2 separate regions of the Homo sapiens genome follow, and region 2 is linked to region 1. Evidence: fine-mapped expression QTL. Tissue or cell type: testis. Region 1 holds a variant in brackets; the other region holds the start of a gene. All regions are shown on one strand. Distances are from middle to middle.

The links. PIP is the estimated chance that this variant, and not a neighbour inherited with it, causes the effect.
Region 2: LINC02871 starts here. The variant in region 1 is fine-mapped to the expression of LINC02871 in testis (GTEx, PIP 0.98).

Annotation. Positions count from the first base shown.
Region 1 is chr20:11,581,514-11,584,277 of GRCh38, reverse strand. No RefSeq gene overlaps it. Among named protein-coding and RNA genes, the nearest start is that of LINC00687, 290 kb to the left of the region's middle. The variant G/A (reference allele first, on the strand shown) is at 1,194.
Region 2 is chr20:11,025,339-11,027,970 of GRCh38, reverse strand. LINC02871 (long intergenic non-protein coding RNA 2871) reads right to left here and starts at 1,427. Exons shown (of 4, transcript NR_146878.1): 1 at 1,397-1,427; 2 at 65-220.

The DNA.
Region 1 (2,764 bases):
GCATTTTTATCTTCATTTCTTTGAAGAAGGATGTAATGCGTAAAGAAGTGGTATAATTCTTCAAGGGCTGAGTTGATAAGCCACAGAGCCTATCCTAGACTTGTATTCAGAAACTCTGACCCTACACTTCAATTGCTGATAGTGATAACTTGCTTGATAATACACACTGTGTTGCCTTCATTCTCTGTCCTGTCTCAATTTCTGCTCCCCTCCTGCTAGTATTGTCTGGGATCACATCCCAAATAAAGCACTTGCACTAAAATTCTTACTCAGAATCTGCTTCTGGGGAATTCAAACTAAGACACTCATCTTCATGAATTTTTTCTATCTAGCTTCTTAATTTCTGTTCTGATCCAAAAAACAACTCCCAAAGAGTGGTTTCCATGTGACATTTTTAAGGTCCCTTCCGTGTTCCTAAAAGATCAGCCTATGCATGGTCAGTTCTTTTGGCAGGATTGCTAATTTCTGTGGCAATTATCTCTATCTCATGGTTTTATCTGGATTAATTTCTTAAAGAACTCTGGCCTAGAAAGGTTTAGTATTTTACTTGAACTTCCTATGTGGAATATTTTTGTATAACAGCAAAGTCCTCTCATACCTTAACCTTAAATGCTCCAAGAGAAAGTTCTACCCTGTTAGAATAAAGGTCATGCCTTCCTCAATTATAGCTAATCTCAAAGCGTGAGAGTTTAACTAATGGTCAAATCCATATTAAGTTTAATTACACATAGTTATGAGTATATAACATTCAACCCATGCCCCAATGATTTATGTAATACAAATGTGATGGGATATTGCTGCTTAAATCCAAGCAGGAGAAGAGGTTCAGAAATCACAAGGACAACCTTTGTACAAAAGCCATTGCTAAGCATTAGTCAGGCAGTTAAGATTAACATGGGATAGCACAACCCTCCATTAGTTACTCATCAGCAAACACAGAAAAACGAGAGCTCGATTATAGCTCTTTGGTGTATTTTTAAAAATGAGAAAATGGAAAAGCACAGAGGCTGAGCAAGGACCCAGGGGCATGCAACCAGCTAAGTTGCTGAGCTGTCAGACACTAAGTCCTCCCTGTCTTAATCCATTGTACCAATGGGCATCATAGCAAATGAGGAGACACAGATACTAATTCAGGAATTTCAAATTTTAGCATCCATCAAAATCATAGTGGGTTTGTTAAAACACAGATTGAT[G/A]TTCCCTGTTGCCTAGAATTTCTGATTCAGTAGGGCTGGCATGAAGACCCTGAGGATCTGCATTTGTGACAAGTTCCCAGGTGATGCTGATGTTGGTAGCCCAAGGCTCACATTTTGGGAATGATTGCACTAATGGAATATATTTTTTCTAAGATGGATCTCAGATGGTACTCATGCAAGGAGCCTGGACTCACTGGCAGACACAGGGGCATCTTATTGCTAGAATCACAGGGCTTAACATTCAGGCCTGCGCAGAGACCGTCAGAGGTGAAATGCCAAGTAATTAGGTCTCAAAACTAGGCTGACTAGAGAAATCGGATTTGCAAAGATCAGAAAGGGCCACAGGTGGCAAACATGACTCAAGGTCGGAAATGCTAAGTTCAGAAAGTACCAAGGCTCAGAACCTCAGCTCTTGCTCTTGCAACCAGTTTAATTCCTATGTGACCCCTGACAACTGAGAGGGAAGAAGGATTGTTGTCCTAGGTAAATGCTGAACTACTAGGAATAAAGGCAAAAAGTTAAATCATTAGGCTCATTTTTTGTTCTTTTTGTCCTCAAAAACCTACCTCTAAATGCTCCTTCTAATGGATACTTCTTGTGAATGCTTGGATATAACCCCATCCAGAAATGCCTTGGATATGCTTTTGTCCTTATTAGTTTCAGTTTTCCCTTGAAGTTTTGTGGTTAAAATGGACTGAAGTGAACCTAGGCTCTTTCCTCACTAGCTGTGGGACCGATGAATTGTGTAACTTCTTGGAGCCTCAGTTTCCTTACCAGGAAAAGAGGGTTAAAATAATTTGTTTCTCATACAACTTCTTCAAGAATTAAGTGAGTCATACTAGCACTTGCCAGATGTAGTAACAGCTCAGTAGACCTCAATTATGTCGTTATTCTTATCATTATTACCATGTGTTAGCATCTTTCCTCTGATGACTGCCACACTCCTGGCAATGGTTATAGTCTATGTAAGATTTCACTTTTGGAAAACCAATGATATTTGAATAATGATTACTTATGAGAATGGAAAAATGTCTTTTACTCTAGAAATTAGGAAACTCAAAGAAGAAATAAAGCCTTAGGGATGTGTTCATGTGTGTGTGTGTGTATGTGTGAGTTAAAAGTAGATAGAAATACCTGGAACAGAAGAAAAGACGTAAGTCAAAAATATGTGGTGAAATCTATAATAACATTGTGCCGATGTTAATTTCTTAGTTTTTTTCTATGTGTACTATGGTTATGTAAGATTTAAACATTAGAGGAAGCTGGGTACAGGATGTACAATAACTCTCTGTGCTATTTCTGTAACTCTTCTATAGATGTAAATGAACTGAAAATAATTTTTTAAAATATCAAATTAACTAGAAAAGAGCTAATTAAGAAGGTTGTGACATAGTTTTTAATAACTTTCCATAGAATAAATATTCTTTAAAAGCAGGTTTTATGTTGTTGTTTATTTTTTTGTTTGTTTCTTTCTTTCCCCAGGAACGGCTAAAATGCATCCAGACACAAGTTGTGACACAGAAGTGCTATGTGCTCCCCAAAACCATTTCCTCTTTCCTCTGGACTCAACC
Region 2 (2,632 bases), 560 kb after region 1:
TCCTCAAAATTGGAATACAGAAAAATATTATTTAATGGAAAAAATGTATTTGATATAAACTTACAGAAGTATGTCCATTCCAGATTAGCAATTATCTCTCCAAGACTACTCATGAAAGGGGCAAATTGGAGCCAGTATTAAAGGTATGATGATTTGTTTCCTTCAACTAATAAGACCCCAGGGCCTCCCACAGGACTCCTTGCAGCCTTCTCCCTCAAACCTTTCAAAACACAGAGTATAATATTAGGCACACCTGAAAGGAACAAAAAAAAACTGAGCCAAAGCAAGATAAAGGGAATATGTATACAAATATCTCAGCAGTTTCCAGGTTGACCCCATCCAACAAGTTTCCACTTGTTCTTTTGACCCTGGGAATCTACTTATAATAATTTTTACTTGAAAGGTGGGAGTTACATTTGAAGCAATATGAGAAAATTCTCAAAGCAGCAAAAATAAAATTGTTCTTTGCCTTGGCCGGCCATAATTACTTCATTGCTATGACATATGACATCATAGTTAGTCCTCAGGCTCGGGGGTGTTTCTAATGAGCTGGAGTTGGAAGGGTCCCAGTGGAATGCAGTGAACCAAAAGACCCACTGTTCTTCCAAATTCCAACATGATATCAGGAGGGAAAACAAAGGGCTCTTCAAGATTCAGAGGTCAACCTGTTCAGCATCGCATCAAAAGGTGGCAATAAGGCAAAAGGAGGTTTCAGGGCATAGGAAAAGGCCACTGTCACCTATTTCTACATCTAATTCAACAACAATGATACTGAATATGAATATTTTCAGTAATTTATGAGACCAAATTTGAGTATTTTGAAAATATTCTGTTAACTTGATATGTTATCACATTGGATCCTTGCCACAGGACTGTGTCCAAGGGAAAATTATTGGTTGCCAGTGCATACATACTATTTTAAATAAATGACTTTGTAATGAAAAATTTAAAACTATACATAGGGAAATAATGAAAACAGTGACAAATATGTTTATCCAGCACATGAGCGAGGTCCTTTTCTGCTCCCTTAGCACAAAGGACCCTCAGAGGTGCAGCCACCTTCCCGGGGGCCCATATGAGCCATTCACCATATACTCCCTTCTGGGAATATGTCTAATGATTTAGCCAATTTATCAGCAAGACAGCCCAGTGGCTAATGCCAGCATCAACTCACCAGAGGTCACAGAAGCTAACAGAAGCCTCTTCCATAGGGCAAAAGTCTTTGAAATGGACATGAGTATCTCTTTCCTAGTCCTGTCACTGGCCCCCAGTGCCCAGCTGGTTTAGGGTACTTAGACAAACTTCTTGCCTTAGAAATCTCCAAACAAAAATGACCAATAGTATTCAGTTTTTTAAAAGACTCACACATTTCAGGACAGACTGATTCAACACATACCCTGCTACAAGAAGGTTGGAGCAAAGAGGAGATATATACTTCCTCTGGACTTCTCAGACATGCTATAAATGTTTTTTGGCAAATCCCAAGATGAGATCACAATTATGGTGGAAGAGTTTAGTACAATTACCTAAAAAATTTTTTTAAAAAGTAGAAAAATATAACTAGAAATATAAAAGATTTGAATAAATAACAGCTTTGACATAATATATCTGAATAAAGACTTTTATAGCCAACAAACATAGACTATATATCATTTTATTGTTATATAGTGAAAAATTTTCAAACACATGAAAGTATAGAGCACAGGATAGTGAAATTTCAATGTGCCCATTAGGTGGCTTCAACAATTATTAATATCATGTAATCCTAATTTTCTTCATTTCTCACCAGTTACTTCTATCCTCCTCATGTTTCTCTCCCTCGTCCTCTTTTTTTCTTATGGAGTAATAGAATATATATTTTTTAAACGCTTGTGGTCGAATGGTTGCAAAACATGGCTCCAATTCTTCACACACCTACACATATCCTTGCTCTTTTCCATGTCACTTTTCAGTGCTGTCTCAACATGAGCAGCATAACCTTCCAACCCCCTGACTCTGAGCACAGATATGCAACTTATTTTAACCCAAACAATATTAGCAGGAGTATCAGAGAACTGAAAATGTGCTTCTGCCTTTTTTTGGTCTCTGCAATCCCATGAGGAAATTCCTAATCTACCTGACTAGAAGTTGAATGTCCTTGTTATCCTAGCTGAGGCCAGCCTAGATCAGCCAAGAGCCACTCAGCTCCCAGACCATCAGACGATCCTAGCCAAAAGCAGCAGAAATTTCCAACCAACCATCCCTGGACTGTGAGTAGTAAGTGCTTATTGTTGCATGCAGCTGATAATTTGTGGTCGTTTCATAGCATTACATAATGGTAGATACATGACACAGAACCTAAGAATTATATGTACTATTTATTTTTTGTCAAAACATAAAAGGAAGCACACAAAAACACCACCCCCCCATACATACACAAAAATATTGGGTAGAAGATAGATAGATAATATTTTAATTACTCAAAAAAAAATCACATAACAAAGTAGATGTTAATATTAAAACAGAAAGTAAGTGAAAGAAGAGAGAACAAAGTAAGAGGTGGTAGTCCTGCCTTTTGAGCTTTGTGCTGGACAGAGTTGCTGGTAGCCTAAATTCAACTCCTGCAGGAACATGTGGCCTTTCACAACCAGAG